3 separate regions of the Homo sapiens genome follow, and all the other regions are linked to region 1. The links come from fine-mapping of genetic effects on gene expression. A gene starts in region 1. Each other region holds a variant in brackets. All regions are shown on one strand. Distances are from middle to middle.

Region 1 (8,180 bases):
TATTTCTTATAGTTAATTAAGATATTTGGGAACTGGGCGCAGTGGCTCACGTCTGTAATCCCAGCGCTCTGGGAGGCCGATGTGGGTGGATTGCTTGAGTTTAGGAGTTTGAGACCAGTCTAGGCAACACAGCGAAATCCTGTGTCTACAAAACACTTAAAAATTAGCTGGGTGTGGTGGTGTGCGCCTGTAGTCCCAGCTACTCAGAACACTGAGCAGAGGATAGCTTGAGCCCAAGAGGTCGAGGCTGCAGTGAGCCACGAAGGCACCACGGCACCCCAGCGTGGGCAACAGAGCCAGACCCTGTCTCAGAAAACAAAACCAAAGGAAAGAAAGAAAGAATTAGGAAGAAAGCTAGGAAGGAAGGAAGGAAAAAGAAAGAGGAAGACAAAGAAAGAGAAAGAGAAAGAGAAAAAGAAAGAAAGAAAAGAAAGAAAACAAGATATTTGGGCATAACTTAACAGACTCTATGTTATTATTATTATTATTTAGAGACAGTTTCTCACTCCAACACCCAGATTGGAGTGTGGTGGTGTCATCACAGCTTGCTGCAGCCTCAACCTCCAGGGCTCAAACCATCCTCCCACCTCAGCCTCCTGGGTAGCTTGAACTACAGGTGTGCAACACCACGCCCAGCTAAGTTTTTTTTTTTTGTATTTTTTTATAGAGGTTTTGTCATGTTGCCTAGGCTCATCTCCAACTCCTGGGCTCAAGTGATCAGCCCACCTCAACCTCCCAAAGTGCTGGGATTATAGGATAAGCCACCACCCCAGCCTTCACAAACTCTTTAGATCTAACTGTTATGCCTTGGATTGACAGGGTTGGCAAATTACCTGGCGCTGGTGTTGCAATGCTGCCTCCTCCCATGCTTGAGGCAGGTGCTGCTTCTCAATCTTGCACCCTTTCCCACTGAGCATGGACTTGCCTTACAAGCCTCGTCCACTCAGGGCTCCAGAAAGTCACTATCAATCAATGGGAACAAGCATACCCAGTGAACCACCTTACTATCCTAGGGTTCTAGCCAGTATAGTCTTATTTTTTGCCTTTATTGATGCCATTTTTTGGAAATGGACCCACTACCTTATTATGCACATTTTGAATTTAAGTAAAAATATATAATAGCAATAGTTTGGATTCCTAACTAATATGAGCATTTAAATACCTAACTGATGGATTTAATGATGATTAATTTTGTTAAAGGTCTTCTTTCTACATCAACGAAAGATTTTAATTCTAGATGTATATATGGTTCCCATGGTTCCCTTAACTTTTTAAAAGTAAAGTGGCCTCTGTTTTCTTTCAGGCTCTGAGCTTTTCATGTGATTTAATAGCATCGATGGTTCACAATTTTCTAGAGCTCTGCAGCCATCTTAAAGCTGATATTAATGTTCCTGGCTTTTGGCAATGAATAACTAATTATGCTGCAAATAGCTAAATTAGGAAAGAGTCTATGGGAGAAGCCCTAAAAGAATGATCCATGGCAGGATTTTGGGAAGAGCTGGAGGTGCGGAAGTTGTCCAGACAGGAAAAGTGCAGCAGCCATGATGGTCGGTGCCTTCGCATCAGGGTTTTCACTCGCTGAGCCAATGGGTCCATAGCTGATGTCAGCTAAATGCCCATGGTGGTGAAGAGCTCCACACTCCTTGTGTTCCTGGGTCATACTCCGTCAGAAGAATCAGAAGCTGAAGCAGAATCATTGGAGCATTTGGCCCTATTCTCTGCTTGCTTTTGTTATCGGTGACTTAAAGAGGGACCAACAGAACACCTTCCTGGGCCTTGAGGGAGCTCTCTGTTGCCATCACCAAGGCCCCATTGGCCCACGCTTCTACCATGGTGTGTACCAGCTCTCCTGGGAGTCACGTGGCCACATATCAAGGGGAAGGAGCTACTTCCCTCCTAGAGCAATGGCACCTGCAGGTAAGAGCTGAGTGGTGAGCTCTTACTTCTGCACTCTGCACTGGGCCAGTATGGATCTCCCCAACCACATTTGACAGTCTTCATCCTGCCATACCAGGTATCACCATCTGCTTCAAAGTCCCCTTTACTATTTGTTCTACAACTGCTAGAAAACCTAAGGCCAAATAGATTGATAGCAAGCTGTCCCCTAATTTCTAAGATAATGCTGTATAGATTTTAAAAAGAATTTCAACAATCCTTATTGCATACTATAGAGGGAGTTCTGTTTCCCAGAAGTTGAAAGTATGGTAAAATCCCTCCTCATCATTCTTAGGGTGCTAGCTGTCCTGGGAGCTGGAAAAGTGATGCAGAAATTGCTGCTTCTCACAAGGCCATGACCTCTCCCTAACCTAGGTAAGGGTCAAGGCAAATGGTCATTTGCCACTAAATTATAAATCTCTGAGCTGGAACTTGCTGGATGTCAATGCTTTGAGAGATATGAGGCCTGGGCCTGCATCTGGGCCCCACCCATCGACTTCCTACATCTGTATTCTGGTTAGGCACCCCGCCTGGCTGCCTACCTGTACTTAAGCCTTCCTGTACTCTGGGACTAGGGGTAAGGGTGAAGAGAGGGTAGAGGAGGTGAGCAAGTGAGGGAAAGAAAAGGTAGTGGAGTGGCAGGATGGGAGGGGGCTCTAGCCAGGATGTTCTGTAAGCAGAGCCCAGCAAATTATCTCTGTTCCCCTTGGCCTGACCCCTTTTCCCAGGAGCAGGGCCTGGCAAGCAGGGTTGTTAGGTAACAGTTTCAACCATCCTCTGGTGGGTTACATACAAAAAGCAGTTTACAGTGTCAATGAAATGAATGCTAGTGTACCTTTCTCGACCTCCTAGCACTCTGGAGGTAAATGTGTGCAGCAGGTCACTGCAGACAGGGAGAGAGAGTTCTACAACAGAGTTGAAGGTAAAAACATGAAATAATTTGGGATATGACCCAAGTGATAACAATATGGTTTAACTGGTTTACCTGGTCTTGTAACCTAAAGAATAATTTCCATAACCCAGTTAACATTCTACTCATTACAGTATTTATGACTGTATATTTCTTAAAAAAGAGTTGAGGCTATGCACACAAATAACTACTCAATGACAAAGAATGAGCTGAGGGCTACACAGTGGCCAGAGAGCAAGTATATTATAAAGGGCTTTGGATCTTGGAGATTCCAGCACCCACTAACCCTGTAGGCACTAACCTCTTACTTTTCTCCTTAGTCAAATGGATTTAACAATCTTTGCCCTGCAGAGTTTTTGAGCAAATTAGCAACAATATATAAGGACAGTATCTAGCACAATACCCCAAATCGACTAACTCCTCCGTAAAGAATAGCTACCACTATTGTGAGAGTTTTAAGTCAAGCTGTGAATAAAACTCTTGGGTCCACTTAAAAATACCTCCCCTGGATGTAAGCATCCAGGGAAATCAGGGAATGCCATAAGACAGCCCTAATCTAAAAGCCTACAAGAAGCTCAGTGGGCTTCAAGGAAGACACTGCTCTTGGTACGATGAGGAAACCTGGCCCTCTATTTGCCTCCTGGGCCACAGTAATATTGATAATAGCTGCTGCTTTTAGTTGAGGACCATGTACGTCTGTGTCACTGCACTGGCCACTTTACTTACACTTTCCTGCTTTGTCCTCACAAAGATCCTGTAAGGTGTGTATTGGTCCCATTTAGCAGGTAAGACAATGAAGACCAGAGGTCCAGCACCTTGCCTAAACCACACCTGCTGGGATTTGGATTCAAGTCCAACCGTACAGCTCAAACGCTCAGCCACTTCCCTAAAGTCCACCCCCAGCTACATTAAGTAAAAAAATCCAGAAAGATGCCACCTGGGGGTCTGGAACTGCCTCCTCCGAGCACCCGGCTCTCCCCTCCCTGCGGACTCTTCTCTGGAGAGGATGTGATGCTTCTTACTTTTCTCAGATCCCTCTCCCCACCCTGCGAGTGACGTTGCGCCTCTGTGCCTGGTGGGATAGGGATCTGGGAGCTTCGCCTGTTTTTTGCACACTGCCATCCCCTAGTCTTAGGGAGCGAGCTCTGTCCCGCTTTTCACATCTCCGCGTCTTTCCTTGCACTCTACATCACCGCTGGGAATGTCCCCAGACCTGATCGGGGCATGCACACTGGGGTGTGCGTGTGCGTGTGGTGTGTGTTCCTGCGCGTGTGCCGGGCTCGCGGGGCAGGAAAAAGCGCCTAATCCAGGCTCTGCGTCACTCCCGCAATTGGTTAGAAATGGAGTTTCCTGGTGTTTAATCCCGGGAGGGCACTTCGCCTTCGTTGTTTCCCAGAGTCCCTGATTTTCCTGCCTCGCATGCCAGCGCCCCATAGGGCATCCGTGCCTCAGTTCACCTCTTGCCATCCTCCAAGGACGGGGAGAAGGGGTAAGGCGGGGGAGAGCAAGGTGGCTTGGTCGCCCCCGGCCCCCGCCCCCCATGTTGTGTGCAGTTTCCACCACGTCTGTTTCGGAGGGAGAAGAGGAGGGTGCAGATGAGGCGAGGCGCCTTCGGGAGCGCGGAGAGCGGGCAGGCAGTGCCACCTGCTGAGAGCCACTCAGGCCGAGCAAGCGGCGGGCAGTGCCACCTGCTATAAATAGGCCGCCAAGGACAGGGTGTGCGACTGTACATCCCGCCACGAGGGCCTGCATCACGCGCGGGGCCCCGCGCCCCCGGCTCCCCAGGGAAACGCTGTGCCCAGATCCTGCGCAGGGGTCTGGATGGGGCGGCGGCCCGAGTACTTCCCCCCTATTCCCCCCACAGACACTGGCTGAGGATGGCCCGCGGGCTTGGGGGCGGGGGGTGGCAAGGAGGGGAGGGAGGCCGCGGCGGACCCGCAGTGCAGCAGCTGTTGCTCGCGTGTGACTCGCCCGTCCGGGCCGTGCTGCCCAGGCACAGTCACACGGCGCAGTGGGGAGGAGGAGGACACCGAGTCCCCCTCCCAGCTCCCCGGGGACCGAGTGGGGAGATCCCGGCTCCTGTCTTCCCCTCGCCTCCAGCGCGCTCGCCCAGGCTGGGAGGAGGAAACCAGAGCCGCGCGCAGACACCTCCTCCTTCTCCTCCTCTTCTTCCTCCTCCTCCTCCTCCTCCTCTTCGGCTGCTGCTCCTGGTGCCGCCACCGTCCGCCGGTGCCTGTTGCTGCCGCCGCCGCGGGACCTGCTGTGTCCTCAGCTGGGTGGAGAAGAGGCGGGCGCCGAGCCGAGGGGAGCCCCCTCCCCGTCCCCCCGCGGCGGGAAGAGCGCAGCCAGCCGGGTGCGATGGACTCCCCGCCCGCCCAGGCCGTCCCCAGGATGCCCCCAAGCACCTGCGCGTCCCGGCCCGGCCCCGGGCTCTGAGCGCGCCGCGGCACAGGTAAGGCGCTTCCTGGGGCTTCGTCCTGGCCACCCTGCTGGCTCCTCTCGGGGCGTCGCGGCCGCCCCCTCCCGCAGCACGCCCCTGCCCCGCCTGGCCGCGGAGGGGAAGGCATCTGGCCGCCCACGGACGCGAGGCCAGGGTCTCTCGGGGGAGGAAGTTCATTGCCATCTCGTTGCCCCCCTTACCCCCCCACCCCCGCCGCCCTTGGACGAAAGCGAAACCTTAATGTTGCTAGCGACCCGAGAGCTCCGCCGGCTTCTCCCCCAACCCCCGCCAGCTCACTGGTCCGCGCATCTCTCCCCTCCCCCCTCCCGCCAATTATCCTAGCGTGTTTGCAAGGCGACCAGATTGGAAAGAGTGTGGTCAGAGTGACCCCAAGCCACGCTTTAAAAGTTCAGGGTACTTTGCAGTAGTAACTTTGGCAGCTCCACCAGTGCGCGCAACATTTCTTTCTATGGGTACATCCTGTACCAGTCATTTTGAAACCCTGCTTCATTGTTTCTAGCCGCTTCCTGATGGCTCTGTGATTATGAGACCCCCCTCAAACTTCACCAGGCATTAAGGTTTTGTTTTTGCTTTTTTTTCAGAGAGGTATCATTTCGTTTGAAATCCACCTAGATGTGGCTTTTCCTGTTTTGATTTTACTTAACATAGCTTATTCTCTGGAAGTTGCTTTAAAAAGAAATTGAAAGTGATGGTTGTTCCTTCCACCAAACAGTTTAATTTTCAGGGTGCCTCATATTAATGGATATGTTTTCCCTTCATAGATTTCTCATTGTTTCCCTTATGATGGGATGATTTCATTTATTAATAAAATCAGACTTTGAAAGAGCATTTAAAAATGACCTGGTTTAAATAGGTCACACCCAAGAAACTCAGCTATCTGTACAAGTTCAAACTTCTAAACTTTTTCAATGAGCTAGGGGTGGTGGCACCCACCTGTAGTCCCAGCTACTTGGGAGGCTGAGGCAGGAGGATCACTTGAGCCCAGGAGTTCGAGGCCATAGTGAGCTATGACTGTGCCACCTCACTGGAGCCTGGGTGACAAAGTGAGATCCCATCTCTTAAAAAAAAAGAGTTTAGGGGACATTTTCTGAAGTGAACACAAGTAGAGCATTCTAACACTATTGAGTGCAAGGAGACCTGGAAGGGACTAAGTGGTTCAAAGCAGGAAATAAAATCATCAGGTGATAATTAAAATAATTTCTTTCCTGTGGATTTGTCCAGCCATTTGCAAACCAGGAGAATAGGAAAAAAAATCACTAGTGTAGTTATAAATTATTACATTACGTTTTCAAAGGAAAATTTTGCAAATGCGTCTCCTTGTCATAGTCTATTGTTATCTACCCCACTGAGAGTGCTGGGGCTTCCCCTTTTCACCACGACAGCATTTCTGGTTGGGTGGCAGTCATGCAGTGTTGACCTGGTGTCCCATAAGGCACAGTTTGTCAAAACACTAGTGGGTATTAGGAGGAAACGTGCAACTCTGAAGCAACAGAGCTTGCCCCTTCTTCCTCATTATCCAGCTGGTGATAATCCCTGTCCCCCACTTCCCTAGAAGACAGCTTTGACCAGGAAGGCTGCAATGACAATGAGATGTACCCCTATGCAGAGCCAGATGTGGGCGGGTGGCTTTTTTGTGGTCCAGATCTTCTAGGATCTTCTAGGATGTAACCCTGGCAAGCAGTGGGGAGCCTGAATCAAGCAGCATGGCTGTTACCTCTTCTGTGTTCACAGCAGCATCTTCAGTTGTCTTGGTGCCTGGAGCAGGCACCACAGCTGCCTGCTCTGTTGGCCACCAGCTTTCTAGAGTAGATGGTAGGGAGGAGAGCAAGGGGCTCAAGAGGATTCTGTCTTTGAACATGCTTTTAATTTGATCTGACAGAATGGCAGCTCCCTGAAGTCCTTCCTACTCTCTCCACAGCATTTCTCTGTAGGTCCCCAGTTTTTGCTCTTTTCAGATTCCCAGAGGACTGAAAATGTATCACGGCCCATTTGGGGACTTCCTGTATATGTGTGGGTGCCTCAGGATCATTTGTTTTGCCCTTTTCCAGTCTACCGTGCTGCCCTTCTCAAGTTTAATGACCACGTTAGTTTCAATATTTTATATATTTCTCAGCAGTTTTCATCTCTTGGTCATTAAACTTGAGAAGTAAAATCTGCTCATTAAAATGACTGAGTCCATGGCCAGGCATGGTGGCTCATGCCTGTAATCCCAGCACTTTGGGAGTCCAAGGCGGGTGGATCACTTGAGGTCAGGAGTTCGAGACCAGCCTGGCCAGCATGGCAAAACCCTGTCTCTACAAAAATATAGATCTACAAAAACTAGCCAGGCATGGTGGCATGTGCCTGTAGTCCCAGCTATTTGGGAGGCTGAGACAGGAGAATCGCTTGAAGCCAGGAGGCGGAGGTTGCAGTGAAACATGATCGTGCCACTGAGTCCATTCAGCAGCAGAGTAGTGTTGGGGTTTGTATCCCTGTAGTGATGACGAAGGATTTAGGTTTTCAGTCAGAACTGTTACCTTACAATTTCCTTCACTGACTTTTCTTCCTTTCCAACACCACATTCCAATAAAAAATATCTTTAGACCAGATTCTTCACGAAAGACATGAAGGTTTTCATGCTTCAAGGTTTTTGACTTTTTTTTTTTTTTTTGAAAGGAGTCTTGCTGTGTCACCCAGGCTGGAGTGCAGTGGCGTGATCTCAGCTCACTGCAACCTCCGCCTCCTGGGTTCAAGTGATTCTCCTGCCTCAGCCTCCCAAGTAGCTGGGACTACAGGCGTGCTCTACCACGGCCGGCTAAATTTTGTGTTTTTAGTAGAGGCGAGGTTTCACCATCTTGGCCAGGCTGGTCTTGAACTCCCGACCTTGTGATCCAC
Region 2 (8,180 bases), 99 kb after region 1:
CTGTAATCCCAGCTACTTGGGAGGCTGAGGCACGAGAATTCCTTGAGCCTGGGAGGCAGAGGTTGTAGTGAGCCAAGATTGTGCCACTGCACTTAGCCTGGGTGACAGAGTGAGACCCTGTCTCAAAAAAAAAAAAAAGAAAATGTTAGTGCTTTTGAATTTTATTTTAGAATGCACAGTAATATTCACGAACATCTGTACAACCTATAGGAAGACCTTTATTTGGTTATATTTATGATATATATATTTTCTTGAGATGGAGTCTTGCTCTGTCACCCAGGCTGGAGTGCAGTGGCGTGATCTCGGCTCACTGCAACCTCTGCCTGCCGGGTTCAAGCAATTCTCTTGCCTCAGCCTCCCGAGTAGTTGAGACTACAGGCACGCGCCACCATGCCTGGCTAATTTTTTTGTATTTTTAGTAGAGACGGGGTTTCACCATGCTGGCCAGGATGGTCTTAAGCTCCTATCCTTGTGATCCGCCTGCCTCAGCCTCCCAAAGTGCTGGGATTACAGGCGTGAGCCACCGCGCCCAGCCTATATTTATGATATTTATGAATCTAATCTTAAGTATCTGGTTTTTCCATTTTAAAATTTCTATGATTTCTGATTTTGTTGTTGGAAGAGTGGTGAACAAGTACTCTGTGCTCTTTTGTTAAATTTATATGAAAAAGCTGACAGAAAAATTACCTTAATTTTCATGCACTTTGGTTATTTTCCTGTAAATCATTTTTATATCTGTCATGTTATAATGGGATTAGACTCACAGGCTCTGTTCTTTTACATTGGTTGAACTTGGCTAAGTTAACTTTGCTGAGCCTGTTTTCTTGTGTCTGAAATGAACTTAATATATACTTGTTTTGTATTTATCTTTTTAAAAATAGTTCCTATTTTAAAATCCATTAATGTCAAAATCTGCTTAGGAAATTGTGAAGACTATCTTCAGATGTAAACCATTTAAAACATGGTCGAATGGGCAGTTTAAGTTAATGGCATGTGTGGTATTAGGCAGGGTAGATACTGAGATGAGTAGGACATGGGCCCAGCCCTTGAATAGCTTGCAGTCTAATGGGGAGAGGGAGACCTGTGGAGATAATTTAATTTTAATGTGATATATGCACGAAGAATCACTCAGCTGGGATTTTGGAGGAGACTAGAAGATGAGGTCTGAGTGAAGTCAAGGGTAATTGTAGGTCATTGATGTGGTGGATTATGAAAAGGAATAGTGAGGAAATACTACTGGTAGTTTTCTAGCATGTTTCAGAATGATTCAAGGTTGCTTTCCAACTGTTTGCCTTGTTTTTGAGACCACTGATTTTTAACCTTGGGGAAGGCACATCAGTATAAATAAATTACTCAGACCTTTTCTTTCATACCAGCACTGCCTATGGCCCTCAAATACCTATCAGTAATTGTGGCTTAGGGTGGTGGTCATTCTAGTAGGATTTAGTAATGTAATTACGGTGTAACCAGAATGTCATCTTGAATGTAATTCCATTTGTTCTTTTCTACATGGGGAACTGACACCCAGAGCGATGAAGTAACTTGATTTGAACAAGATCACACAGCTAGTTTATGGCAGAACTTAAAAAGTTCTTGGACACCTGTTTTTGAGGTACATTGTTAATATTGCTCTGCTGATTTGTTTGCACTTTCATCTTCAAACTGTTTTACTAAAATCAAAACTATGCACATCTATCAAACAATATATTGTATTTCAGAATACTTTATTTATTTATTTATGTTTTTGAGACGGAGTCTTGCTCTGTTGCCCAGGCTGGATTGCAGTGGCGCGATCTCGGCTCACTGCAACCTCTGCCTTCCGGGGTCAAGTGATTCTCCTGCCTCAGCCTCCAGAGTAGCTGGGACTACAGGTGCCCGCCACCGTGCCTGGCTAATTTTTGTATTTTTACTAGAGATGGGGTTTCGCCATGTTGGCCAGGTTGGTCTTGAACTCCTGACCTCAAGTGATCTGCCTGCCTCAAGTGATTACAGGTGCGAGCCACTGTGCCTGACCCAGGATACTTTATTTAACCCCTTGATGAGTGTATTCTTGCAAATTTCAGGTCAAGATGCCTGCAGGGAAATGAGCAAGGAGAGGAAGCCTGAGTAGTCGGGTTGGGGTGGGTGGGGATCCTTTGATATGTGAAGGGTGTCTCTGCAGCCTGGTAGGACCAACCAGTTGTGTTAACTGTGCAAGAAGAAGCACAGCCTGAGTATTTGAAGAGAGTGCAAGTTGCCAATGTCTAATGTGGCTGTTTAGCTCCCTAGCACTGGGCTGCAGTGACCCACCCATTCACTGAGTGCTCCTGTTTCCCGGAAGGCATCCTCTGGGAGATGGGGTAGGTGTGTGTAATGGATCTCTTCCCTCTAATATGAGAGATTGACTTTGCTCAGAAAAACATCGACTGCAAATGGCATTTAATAGAAGGGACAATTATTTTAGCATGAATAACAAGGGAAGAGATGATTATATTTTTCAGAACTTTATATGTGCCAGCCATTGTGTTAGAAGTCTCATAATTAATTTAATTCTCAAAATAATTGTGGCAGTAGTGGTATTATTTCCTCCTTCCACTTTTTTTTTTTTCAGGAAAGAAATATGAAGAAACTGAAATTCAGAAAGGCTAGGTACCGTGTCCTAGCTAATAAGATTAAAGCTTGACTTGTTTGGCTCTAAATTCATATTTTATCTGTTGTACCTGCATTGTCTCTGTAACGGGGATTACAACGCATGTTCAATATGTGAAACAAGGGCAGCAGAGCTTAGAAAAATATCTTGTTCCACTGAGAAACTGAACTTTTTTCCCCTTTCTTAGGTGAGAGACATAAAACATTCAACTAATCTGCTTTTAAAAATAGATATACCATATGGAAACTATATAAGAAGTGTAACATTTTTTTAAATCCCTGAATTTTGTGATGTTCTCAGTTAGGGAGAGAAGGAAACAGGAAATAAGAGAAAAATCACATAGAAGATTGAAGGTGAAGATTGGGAGGAGGTTAAGACAATTCAATGATAGACCGAAAGAGGTCAGTTTTGAGTGACCACATGAGATTGCATTTTCTCGTTGACTTGAGTTGTGGATTTTAGAGTGTTTTCACTTATTCTCTGATATTCTTTTCAAAGTACCACAGAACCATGTTTCATAGTTATTCAGCTTACCTGGAAAGTTCTCTTTAGGAGTCGATTCTGCATAGACTCTCCAGAGCATCATACTGTGGATGTTTTATCGGCCTATAGATAGCACACTAGGCAGGCAGTAGCAGGCGTGGGGTGCAGGTCCCAGTGTGCTCTGTGTTTGCTGTTTAGCCTTGGCTAGGCGACAGTGGGAAAGATGATCAATGCCAGGTGCCCATCAGGTAGCCTTGTTTGGCATCACGTGAGCTGATGTAAGTGCATGTAAACCGTCAAGCACTCTTTTGGATGAACTTGTCTAGGAACAGCAGGGTGTAGCACGTGTTTCCAATACATTTTTTGACCTAGGGCAAGTTACACTTGCCTGGGCCTCAGTCCTTGATCTATAAAATGAGAACATTGTGTTAAATGATTGCTACAGTTGTATTCAATTCAGAATCTGTGTCCCTGTGAGTGCAAGTCAAGCCAACTATCTTAGATTGTCTACCTTTGATAAGGAGGAAAGGGCCCCTGAAATCATTGGTCTAGGTCAGATCTCTCCACCAGTTACCAGTGGAGGGATGACCTTAAGTAAGTTATTTTTTTCTCTAGACATTAATGTGTTCATCCATTAAAGGGGGGATGATAAACAGCTATCCTCTAAGCGGTTGACGATTTATCCACATAACACACTTAGTACCTAGATTAAGCACTTAGTACTCGTGAACCATCATCATCATTGAATTTAGGGGTGGAGGAAGACTTTTGTAGTTGCTTAGCTGCATTCCCTCTTTTTAAGGATGAAGAAACATGAAGCCCACTATAGGTGAGATGTCTTTCCCAAAGCCACAGCTAAGATCCAAACAGAGCTCTTTGCATCACCTGGCACTCATTCAAATGGAAACCAAAAACAAAATTTGAAGCACCCCAACTGACCGATGGACCGCCCCCTCCTCAGTCAAGGGCATTCCAGAGAAACCTGAAAAACTCGTTCAGGTCGTGATGGGAAAGGGGACATGCTTCATTACACCTTCCTCTCTCTGGAATTCAGGCACAACTGACCAGCGTAAACATTAAAACAGAGATCTTAAGACTGCCAAAACAGATCTCAAATTCCAGCCTAACTG[C/T]AGTCTGACATCACTTGACATAGCAGGCCCTGAAAGAAATTGAAGTATTTTACCACAAAATATATTTCTTTGGCATATTTTGAAATGGCCCTGGAAAGCTGTCTCTTATGGGGAAAATCTACTTTCTCTAAAGAATCCTCTTCACTTTCCAGATCTTTTCCTTGAACCAGGAGAGAATTAACTAAGAGTCTGGCACATTTTTTGTTAGGTCTGATAAGATCTCTGAAGCCTGCTACCTGGAGGCCTCATCTGCATGATAAAAACCTTGGTCTTCACCCAGGTTATGACCTTGTCTTAACCTACACACTTATTTCTATTGATTCCAGATCTTTAGATAATAACGCTTTCAACTAATTGCCACTCAGAAAATATTTGAATCCACCTATGACTTGCAACCTCCCCTCCACCTTCAAGTTGTCCCACCTTTCCAGACCAAACCAATGTACACCTTACATATATTGATTGATGTCTTATGTCTCCCTAAAATGTATAAAGCAAGCTATAGCCCCGACCACCTTGAGCACGTGTTCTCAGGACCTCCTGGGGTTGTGTCATGGGTCGTGGTCCTCACATCTGGCTCAGAATAAATCTCTTTAAATGTTTTACGGAGATTGATTCTTTTTGCTGACACTAATATTTAGATTCTTTCTGTTGTTCTAGCACATTCTGCATGAATTAAACATAAACCCTGTTCCCTAGTACAGAACAAGAGCAAACTGCTTTCTTTAGGCCACAAGTAACTTAGATCAGTTAAGGGGAAAATGGGGGAGAGAGGAGGACATTGGCTTCTGCCACCAGCAGCCTGTGTGACCTTGCCCAAGGTCACAACTCTGTGGGGTTAGTTCCCCTTCCCTGAAATAGGTGTAGGGAGGGACTCCTTGACAGTTTCTGGTTTTTTTCGTCTCTCAGAGTGCAATGAAGAATTTCTTCATGGCTAAGGCTGTTAGACTCCAGAAAATAGTTTGCCAACCAAAGACACAGAGTTTCCAATTTTGGAATACTTTAAAAATAGGAAGGAAGTTTATTTGTTTAGCAGAATTTATAATTGTAGGACTGCCCAAGGCAGAGAATTAGCCAAGTGGTATTTTGCGGAAGTTCTTTTTAAAGGGTGGGCCCAAAGGAAACCAGTCATTAGGTGGAAATAAACTGTCAGATTTTTGAGACGTTATTTGCTTAGGGACATTTACACTGGTCTATTGTGACAGTCTCTATTGTGTTAGGCTTTTAAAAGAAATATGTAAGTTTCCAAGTTTAAAATGTTAGAGCAAGTGTCCAGTCCACGGCCTGTGGGCTACATACAGGCCAGGATGGTTTTGAATGTGGCCCAAAAAAGATTCATCAACTTTCTTAAAACATTGAGTTTTTTTTTTTTAAGCTAATCAACTATCATTAGTGTTAATGTATTTTATGTGTGGGCCAAGACAATTCTTCCAGTGTGGCCCAGGGAAGCCAAAAGATTGGATACCCCTGTATTAGAACTTGTAAAATTTGACTTCAGAAACACAACCAAAAGCCCGCTTATGAGTAAGGAGTTTGTGGCCCCTTGTGTACTGATTATTAATCAATTAATTGTATAATAAGCATGAAATATTGCTAGTACATCTAAGGCCAAAGCCTTCTTACGGTTCCAGAAAAAGCTGTATTCCTGAATTTCCAGGTGAAGGGAAGGGATTCTCCTTCCATTTCCAGAAATATGTGAATATAATACATAGGGATTTTTATCACACTAGTGTTTCAGTAAAAGCAGCCCTTCAAGTCTGTGCCATCCAGTTTTGGTGTAACTGAAAGAACATCGTACCAAAGTTTGATTTTTGTCAATTCTCTAGTGTGTTAATCAGCTGAGAATGTGGTCTCTGGATATTTTTCCCCAAGGAAAGAGCTGGATGTACTAGACCACCAGACCACACAACTCTGTATTTGTTTTGCAATAACTACACTATTTGGGGGAGTAGTGTGGTGTTTCCAGACGTTCTTGGTCAAGAAATCTGGCCGCTTCAAGCTCAGTGTTGATCACAATCTATTTCTTTTGCCTCTACTCTGTGGCAGGCACTTGAGACACAACTGCCAAGATGAGAGAGACCCAGCTGCTGACCTGGGGCGGGGGTGGGTGGGGGGAAGGTGGTGAAGGCAGTCACAGAGTCAGCCTGCCAGAAAGCAGGTGGGGAACTGTAAACCTCTGAGTAGCCCCTTGGTATACAGAGGTAATAATTTCCCAAATGTAGTAAATCCCACTTTACAACCTCACGGTTAATTTTGATCAGGGATAAGTAGAACTGACTATACACTGTTAACTTAGATATTGTCCTTCTCAAAAACATCATTTTTATTCTGGGTGCCAGAGATTTGGCTTGGGTGTGGGTGTTAAGAACAGTCCACAGTGTCCTGGAGTACCTCTCCGCTGATCTGGGGGCTCTTTAAACCTCTCTAACAAGTTTTTGTGCTAATCCTGACTGAGTAGATGGAGGCAGTGGAGCCCAGCTGGCCTGTCACTATGGGGCAGAGGGTGACTCTACCCTCAAGCCCTGCATGAAGACCCCAGGGTGGGCACCACAGCCCTTTACAGTCACTTAGCACCTGCTGCTGAACACGAGCATGCAGACCTGGTAAGGCTTGTGAGTTTCAGAGAATTCCTGCAAGTCCCTGGAAATGTGGGCACTGGCAGCTCTTCTCTCTCTTTTTTTTTTTTAAATTTAGTGGGCTTAGAGGTTTTAGCCTAATAAGGAAATTTTACACTGGACGATTTTATCCCAAATAAAAGCAAATCATAGGGACCCAGTGTTGCCTAAAAAACCAGTCCTTACTGGGGAGGTCTAGTTGTGTCTAGCCTGGCTCTGTGACCAGATGCCAGCCATTCCAGCCTCCTGTGGCTGCATTTCATCCCGAAAGTGAATAAGGTGAGTGAGTGATTCAAAGGTCCCATCCAGGGGGTGACAAAGAATATTCCAGGTGGAAGAAACTGCATGAGCAAAGGTATGGAGGTGGAAACCCAAATGAACAGAGGCTTAGGAGGTGTGTTCGAAACATGTTTGGTACAAACGGAACTTACAGAGAAAGAAGCCAGGTGAAATAAGGCAGGAAGAGTTGAGTGGAGCCCCATTGGTGGGAGACCCTGAGGGTTAGCAGGACTGTGTTTGTTCTGGTAGGGATTGCAGAGGAGCCCTAGAAGGTTTGTGAGCAGGAGGCTGACCCCATCAGACCTGTGTTTCCAGAAGATCAGGCTGTGCTGGATAGCAGGATGGATGTAGGGAGATGCCAGAGGCGGCAGAGGAGAGGTCTTGCTGGGGTCTGGCTGAAGCAAGTGTAGGCCCGGACCAGCGCTTGAGGTTTTGGGCTCGTGGTGAGAGAATATACACCCAAAGAGCTGAGGGAAAGAAGGAGTAAGGAGAAAGAAGAGCAGAAGCCACTTACCAGGTTTTGAGCCCAGTTACCTAGAAGGCATTTGGGAAACAAGGAAGTAGGAAGAAAGGCCTATTTTAAGGAAAAGAGAATGAGCTTGATGTGGATATTTTAAGGTCAAGGACTAGAAGTCTGGTGTTTTTTTTTTTTTTTTTTTGAGACGGAGTCTCGCTCTATCACCCAGGCTGGAGTGCAGTGGCGCGATCTTGGCTCACTGCAAGCTCCGCCTCCCGGGTTCACGCCATTCTCCTGCCTCAGCCTCCCGAGTAGCTGGGACTACAGGTGCCTGTCACCACGCCCGGCTAGTTTTTTGTATTTTTAGTAGAGATGGGGTTTCACCGTGTTAGCCAGATGGTCTTGATCTCCTGACCTCGTGATCTGCCCGCCTCGGCCTCCCAAAGTGCTGGGATTACAGGTGTGAGCCACCATGCCTGGCCGATTCTTTTTTTTTTTTTTTTCTTTTTTTGGAGACAGAGTCTCACTCTGTCCCCTAGGCTGGAGTGCAGTGGCGCGATCTCAGCTCACTGCAACCTCCGCCTCCT
Region 3 (8,180 bases), 89 kb after region 1:
GCTGGGATTACAGGCGCATGCCATCACGCCTGGCTAATTTTTTGTATTTTTAGTAGAGACGAGGTTTCGCCATGGTGGCCAGGGTGGTCTTGAACTCCTGACCCCAGGTGATCTACCTGCCTTGGCCTCCCAAAGTGCTGGGATTACAGGCATGAGCCACCACGCCCAGCCTCTCTATGCCTTTACGGTTTTATCTATTCCTATGCACCAGATAAAACCACAAGGGTGGAAAAAAGATGAAACCCTATCATCCCCTGTAGGGTCTAGCCCCACAGGGTTGGTGGGTTTTTTCCCCGTGTGCAGAGACGAGAGAGTGTAGAAATAAAGACATAAGACAAAAAGATAAAAGAAAAGACAGCTGGGCCCGTGGTACCACTACCACCAAGATGTGGAGACCGGTAGTGGTCCCGAATGCCAGGCTGTGCTGATATTTATTGGATATAAGACAAAGGGGCAGGGTAAGGAGTGTGAGCCATCTCCAATGATAGGTAAGGTCACATGGGTCACGTGTCCACTGGACAGGGGGCCCTTCCCTGCCTGGCAGCCGAGGCAGAGAGAGAGAGAAGAGAAAGAGAGAGACAGCTTACAACATTATTTCTGCTATCAGAGACTTTTAGTACTTTCACTAATTTGCTACTACTATCTAAAAGGCAGAACCAGGTGTACAGGATGGAACGTGAAGGCAGACTAAGAGCGTGACCACTGAAGCACAGCATCACAGGGAGATGGTTAGGCCTCTGGATAACTGCGGGCAGGCCTGACATCAGTCAGGCCGTCCACAAGAGGTGGAGTAGTAGAGTCTTCTCTAAACTCCCCCGGGGAAAGGGAGACTCCCATTCCCGGTCTGCTAAGTAGCGGGTGTTTTTTGTTGACACTAACACTACCGCTAGACCACAGTCCACTTGGCAACAGGCGTCTTCCCAGATGCTGGTGTTACCGCTAGACCAAGGAGCCCTCCTGGTGGCCCTGTCCGGGCATAACAGAAGGCTCGCACTCTTGTCTTCTGGTCACTTCTCACTATGTCCCCTCAGCTCCTATCTCTGTATGGCCTGGTTTTTCCTAGGTTATGATTGTAGAGCGAGGATTATTATAATATTGGAATAAAGAATAATTGCTACAAACTAATGATTAATGATATTCATATATAATCATATCTAAGATCTATATCTAGTATAACTATTCTTATTTTATATATTTTATTATACTGGAACAGCTCGTGCCCTGGGTCTCTTGCCTTGGCAGCTGGGTGGCTTGCCGCCCACAATCCCCCATGATCCTCTCCTTTTGATATTCATGTCCTTATATTATCTCCTCCCCTTAAGTGTGGACTAGACTTATGTCTTTGGTTTTTCACAAACAGTAATAGAGCAAAAGTGTTGGGATGTCACATCTTAATTCATAAAACACTGTTTTTGGATTTGTGCATTCTCTTGGATCACTTGTGCTGGGGGATACAAACTGCCATTTTCTGATCAGTGCTATGGAAAGAAACAGCAAGAAACAGAGGCCCTGAGTCCAGCAGCTTGCGAGGAACTAAATACGGGCAACACCTATGTGAATGAGCATGGAAGTGGATCCTTCAGTCCCAGGCCAGTCTTGAGATGACTCCAGCCTCAGTTAACAGCTTGGCTGAAATTTTAGGGCGACTTTCAGCCAGAGCCATCCAGCTAAGATGCTCCTGGATTTCTGACCCACAGAAGTTGTTTGTGGTTTTAAGCTTCTCAGTTTTGGGGTAACTTTTTATACAGCAATAGGTAGCTAATACCCTCACTAAACTCAGATGCCAGATATTTAGGGAACAACATTAAAATGTCCCAATGGTCCTTCAAGAAGATAATGCACAATTAGTAGAAGGAAAAGAGAAGCAGAATTCTTGGGCTGGGTTGGCCATTTGGCCTGAGGAACTCAGTGAGTGGTTCCACCTGACACATGCATAACACATCAGCGATTAAACCTTTGGACTTTTTTTTTTTTCAACGTGGAACTCAGGAGTGGCTGGGATTGAAACTCAGCTTTACCTTTGTAGCCATAAACTGACCACCTTGTCTCATCATCTTGCCTTGGGAGAGAAGAAAACTATGGTGAAATCAACATTTCTCAAGTTGCTAAAGCCTCCTGGCAGGCAGGAGCTAAATGGTTCTTTTTCCTCTGCCCCACTTTTGGTCTCAATGGCCGAGTTTCCTGACTCCAAGAAAACCACCTTTGATTATATAAAGGTATTAGGGGCTGGGGAACACTGGTCTTTTGTTACTAGCAATCTAAAGCGCTTAGGAAGAAAAGCCCTGGGGGTGGGGGTCACCCCTGGAAAGTTGGGCGGGCTTTGTGTTAGCTCCAACTCTGGGGCTTTTGTGGAACCTCGGAGAGGGAGGAATTCTTAGATTTCTGAAAGTTGTGCGAAACGGACCCCAGAGGCCTGGAAAGGCGCGTCCCCAGCCTCCAGGGTTTCCTGCGCAGCCCTGGGCATCTCGGAAGGGGGCGACCCCAGCATGTCCCAACTTCCCGCCAGCAGCGGAGCGCGGGGGTGGGCGGGGTCGGCTGCGCGCCCTCCCCTCCTCTCCCCTCCTCCCCCCGCCCACCCCCTCCCCGCGCTCTCCCCTCCCACTTCCCTTTCTCTGCCTGGCCGCCCCGCGGGCGCGACCTCTCGGGGCAGTGACGAACTGGGTGGAGCCCGCCGCCGCCGCCGCCGCCGCCGGGGAGAGCGATGCCCCGGCCCCGCCGCTCCCCAAGCCCGCCCCCGGCCGCCCGCGGGCCCACGGGCCGGCGGCGGGAGTGAGCGGGAGCCGGCGGGCGAAGAGCCGCCGCCCGGCCCGCGATGTCACCATTGTTCAGCTGGGTGGCCAAGGTAGGCGGCGTCGGGCGGGCGCCCGTTACCGGAGCGGAGCGGCAGGCGCGGGGCTGGAACATTTGTAACCTTCGGGCCGGGGCTGGGCCGGGCCGCTGGAGGCCAGGCGCGGCGGGGGGCGAGCGGCGGGCGCGACCAGGTCGTTAGCCGCGCGTTTCTCATTCATTAGTCTCCCAGATCCCTGTGGGGAGGACGGGCGAGGTAGCGGCGCCCATTTCACAGTTGGGGAGACTGAGGCTGTACTCGGGGACCCCTGCGGGAGCCCGAACCCAGCAGGCGGCTCCTCCGGCCCCTGTCGCTCCCCGCGCCGCGGAGCTGCCGCTCGGTGCCTCCCCGGCGCGGGACCTCGCGGAAGTCGACCCCGCGTGTCTCCCTCGCGGGTGTCGCCCTCGTGTGTCTCCCTCGCAGAAGTCGGCTTGCGCTGGGCCGCCTGGACAGGGCGCCGAGGATGCCCAGAGGCTGGTGCCCACAAGGGGCGTCTGTCTTTCGTTTTTAACCCTCTGGTTTCAAAGGGCATGTTCTGAGGTCTGAGTTTTAAATAGAAGTTTTTAACTTTCCATTCCCACAAAGTTTTATTTTCAGAACATCAGCGCCTTCGAGATAACTGGGTGGTGCAAATCCAGGCCAGTTGCACTGTTGCTAACAGGAAGGCATAAGTGTAGATTTCCCGAGTTCCCACCAGTTCGAGAACACAGTAATAGCATCAATAGCATTCTTTTTATCCACTCCTGCAGTGCCAGGTGTCTGAATGTGTTTTAAAGGATGCGACCCTCGCCACCTTGAAAGGCTCGCTGGTCGTTAGGGCATCTTGCTGTCACCCCATGCACTCAGTCCCTTGGCCGGCGCCTTCCCAGGGCTTGTTTCCTGTGTATGGCTGGTTGAGTAATAAGCTCACAACTCGTTAGCCATACTGTGAGGCTTTACCAATTAATAATTTAATTAGGTGGTGGTTATGTCTTGAGTTATCATGCAATGCTTTTATAGTCTTATTTAATTACATTTTTATGAATACCTGTTTGTGAGCAGGTATGGCTTTGCCTGTGATTTAAGTGATACAAAATTGGAGACACAGAAACTAGATAACACTAGTTTTTAGATGGGCAAAAGTTTTTAGGTAGATTTTCTTACTAGGTAAATAACATTCCATTAGAATCACTTCCTGAAACATAGCTGGTGGTAAAATGAGATGACTTTCAAAAACGTTTTGAGTCATTAAAAAGTCATTTCAAAAACCATCACAGACTTTTAGGACGATTGTTAGCCTTCTCCGAGTGTCAGTACGTTGGAAAAGTTTATATAGAGGAAATGTAGGCTGGTAGCTTAATTTGGATTCTGAATCTTGTTATTTCAAAATTATTATTTTTGAGACAGAGTCTTACTCTTGTCACCTAGGCTGGAGTGCAGTGGTGCGATCTCAGTTCACTGCAACCCCCACCTACCAGGTTCAAGCGATTCTTGTGTCTCAGCCTCCCCAGTAGCTGGGATTACAGCTGTGCGCCACCACTCCCAGCTAATTTTTGTATTTTCAGTAGAGATGGGGTTTTGTCATATTGGCCCGGCAGGTCTCGAACTCCTGGGCTGAAGTAATGCCCCCACCTTGGCCTCCCAAAGTGCTGGGGTTACAGATGTGAGCCACCACACCCGCCCTCAAAATTATTATTTCGATTACAGGACAACAGCGGAAAAACTATTAAATGTTTTTGGAGCAAATTCATGTATACCTCTTAGCATACATTTTTAAAATGTGGTTATTTTATATTTCATTTCCTGTAGGTGGTGCATGCATTACAAATTATATCCCGAAATTGAATGATTTTTATAGATAACGTGTTATCCTGTGAAAGATTTTAGAATACGAAATTAGTCTTTGGAAGTTTATTTCTTGGAGTTATAGATTGTAAGAATGATGTTCTATGGAACTGATGTGGTTTACGGTGAAGAGGCAAGTCATTAACACACTTTACATTACAAACTAGGTAATATCCTAAAGACAAAGACAAAAGGCATAGATAATGTACACAATGTGAATAATCTTGAAGTTGTTATATTTGAC[T/G]TCAGAATGCCCCTTCAGAAACACACAGCTGCACATGAGCACAGGCCTCACACAAACACCTGCACATCCAGTTACGCAGCTGACTTTCCTTTTCCTTTTTCATTTTGACCTTTGCAACTGCAGCTGAACACCTGGTGGGGAAGGAGAAGGGGTGGGTGTCGGTTGATTCACATGGATACCTGAGCACGAATGTGTTTTTCTTTTTTTTTGTTTTGAGACAGAGCTTCGCTCTTGTTGTCCAGGCTGGAGTGCAATGGCACAATCTTGGCTCACTGCAACCTCTGGCTCCTGGGTTCAAGTGATTCTCCTGCCTCAGCCTCCCGAGTAGCTGGGATTACAGGCTTGCGCCACCACCCCCGCTAATTTTGTATTTTTAAATAGAGACAGGGTTTCTCCATGTTGGTCAGGCTGGTCTTGAAGTCCCGACCTCAGGTGATCCACCTGCCTCGGCCTCCCAAAGTGCTGGGATTACAGGTGTGAGCCACCGCCCCCGGCCAAGCATGAATGTGTTTTTCTTGCACGATGCATTAGTATTGTGTGAATATTGAATGTGTAGAGTGGGCAATTTCATGATGTAGGAATAAAGCCAAAACGGGAGAGTTTTGTTTTAAAGAGATTATCTGTTTAAAGAAGAAAGAAAAACATAAGATGTACTTTTAAAAAAAATTGGACATGATCTGGAACATTAGGGCAGGTGTACATTGCATCAAGAATGTGGCTGGGCTTTATAGCAGTGTGATTTCTTGATTAGTCTTTCAGTGGGGACACTTGACTTTTTACGCAGTTTATAAATAAAACTGAACTTCTCAAGCTTTGTGATTTTCATAGTAAACTCACAGATGTCCCCAACAACCTGTCAGTTTTGAGTATATCTACTGTTTCTATGCCTCCATGTATCTGTTAGTCAAAACTGACTGCAGCAGAACTGCCAAGTAACTTCCAGAATTTATTTGGATTTGCACCTGCTTATAAAGTTTGTAGCTAAGATTATTGCTGGTATCTCAAGTTGGTAGATTTTAAATATACATATGTCAGTTTATGAGAAAAAATGGAAAATGAGAACTAAATATAGCCAAGTTTGCTGTGTTTCAAATCCAAGTATAGTTTCATATAGTTTATGGTGTGTATTAAGTATTTACCTTATGAATAAAGTACTTAACTGTGTATTTAATGTATTAATTAAGGCATTTAACTGTGTATTTTCCAGTGCTCATTCAACAAGTGTTTTATTAGGTACTTTTTGTATATAAGCAGTGTTTATGTCCTGGAGGAGTTAATTCACTCTGCACAATAGATTATCCTTTAAAAAGTGTGCACCCTGGAGATTTGTAAATTAAATATTTAAAGATGCATTAAAAAAGGAATCTTTTTTTTTTTTGACCCTGAGTCTCACTCTGTCGCCCAGGCTGGTGTGCAGTGGCACGATCTCGGCTCACTGCAACCTCTGCCTCCTGGGTTCAAGTGCTCCTCCCACCTCAGCCTCCCTAGTAGCTGGGACTACAGGCATACACCACCATGCCCAGCTAATTTTTGTATTTTTAGTAGAGACAGGGTTTCACCAGGTTGGCCAGGCCGGTCTTGAACTCCTGACCTCAAGTGATCTGCCCACCTCCGCCTCCCAAAGTGTTGGGATTACAGGTGTGAGCCATTGCATCCAGCCCACAGAATCCTTTTGTAAAGCAAGTAACTGATTGCTAATTAATATTTTATGTAAAACCAGGTTTTCCGTATTTGGGCATTACTTTTAAAACATTGGTTTATCTAGCCACCATTCATTCAACAGGTCATTTAACAAATGTGTTCAGTGCAGATATTTATGGATAACCTACCTATAATAGGTACTATTTGAGGAGCTGGGGATTTAGCAACCGACAAGCAGACCCCTGTTTTCATGGAATTCTAGATGGGAGAGATAGCAAAGCAGCAAGCAAATAGGTGAACAAGATTATTTCAGATGGTGATCAGTGCGAGGAAGAGAAGTAAGTGGCTCCGGGCTGGGGTGGTGCAGGGGTGGCATTCCATCTGACTGGTGAGAGGGCAGGAAACATGCTCCAGGCAGGCCTCAGGGAGAAGGGAGGTATGGCTGGAATATATCCAGCTGGGTGCACAGCACTGAGCTTTGAGTGGGGAGGGGTAAGGTGGGCCAGGCTGTTTATGGCTCCATAGGCTTAGAATGGGGTTTGGATTTGCTTTTAAGTGTAGTCAGAAGCCGTTAAAGATGTGGAAAAGAGGAGTGATGTCAGCTGATGTATATTTCGGATGGAAGCAGAGGGACCACTTAGGAGGTGGTTTTGGTTCGGATAGGAGGTGATAGTGGTAGCTTGGACCTCAGTAATAAGAAAGGAATACCAGTGGATAGTCATTGTCTGTATTTTGAAATGATGTGACCCAGTGGCTTTGCTATCTTGTTTGTCTGTGTTTGGTGCAAATAACCGAGTAACTAATTGCTATTTATATGTTGAGTACGAGTACAACTTGCCCTTCCATCATCTCTTTCTTCTAAGCACAGCTTCCATGCAAAGTTCTGTCCTGACTCTGGGCTTATTTATTTACCTTTGAGGTTTCCTGCAGACTAGACCAGCCCACCTTGGGTGCCGGTAGGCGGTAGGAGTTGCCCTTCTGTTTACCAGCACACAGCACAGCAGCCTTCCTATGTAAGGTGTGAATCTGACTATAGCAAATATTTAGGCAACAATTTTCTTGTGTTGCTTGAAGTCAGTCCAGTGTTGGTTTGTCCTTGATGTGTGTCCTAGGTTAATGTGATGTATTGTTTTAAAATTTTTTTTTCTTCTGTAGACTCATACTACATTTTATTAGTGGATGCTTGAGTTTAATAAGGAGGGGAGAACTCCTTGTCATAGTCAAACCATTCCTTGAATTTGAAAAATGTGCTGCCTCGGCTAAGCAAAGCTGGTATAACCCTGACCAGGATTTCAGCAGAGTTCCTGTGGAGCACTTTTTATCTGGTAGTGGTGGCAGCTGTGTTTTGGGCTTTGGGAACTCTAGTTGCTTAGAGTGTGCCAGGAACTTGGGCGTAGGTTGGTTTTACTGAAAGAGAATGGAGGAGAGCAGAGATAGAAATCCCACCTAATCCACAAATAGAACACAGCCCAGAGCAATGCCTGATGAGAAAAAAAGATAAAGTATAATTTGTTTCCTTAGACAAATTCTTTAATCTGATTTTAACCTGTATGTGTGTCCCCTGTTCTTCTGTTTCTATCAAAACTCTCCTCATCCTTCATTCCTTTCCTGAAGCACCTCTGATTAATCATTCATTCATTGACG

The links. PIP is the estimated chance that this variant, and not a neighbour inherited with it, causes the effect.
Region 2: its variant is fine-mapped to the expression of TBC1D1 in thyroid (GTEx, PIP 0.98).
Region 3: its variant is fine-mapped to the expression of TBC1D1 in whole blood (INTERVAL, PIP above 0.99).

Annotation. Positions count from the first base shown.
Region 1 is chr4:37,886,052-37,894,231 of GRCh38, forward strand. It overlaps TBC1D1 (TBC1 domain family member 1), which reads left to right and starts at 5,033. Exons shown (of 22, transcript NM_001396959.1): 1 at 5,033-5,297. RefSeq lists silencers at 4,552-4,741, 5,062-5,561, 6,591-6,640 and enhancers at 6,341-6,470, 6,901-7,180.
Region 2 is chr4:37,984,718-37,992,897 of GRCh38, forward strand. The region is part of intron 2 of TBC1D1 (TBC1 domain family member 1); the gene reads left to right. Among named protein-coding and RNA genes, the nearest start is that of PTTG2, 28 kb to the left of the region's middle. The variant C/T (reference allele first, on the strand shown) is at 4,243.
Region 3 is chr4:37,974,688-37,982,867 of GRCh38, forward strand. All of the region lies in intron 2 of TBC1D1 (TBC1 domain family member 1), which reads left to right. Among named protein-coding and RNA genes, the nearest start is that of PTTG2, 18 kb to the left of the region's middle. RefSeq lists silencers at 2,502-2,571, 2,642-2,761, 2,882-2,931, 2,952-3,251 and an enhancer at 7,495-7,594. The variant T/G (reference allele first, on the strand shown) is at 4,896.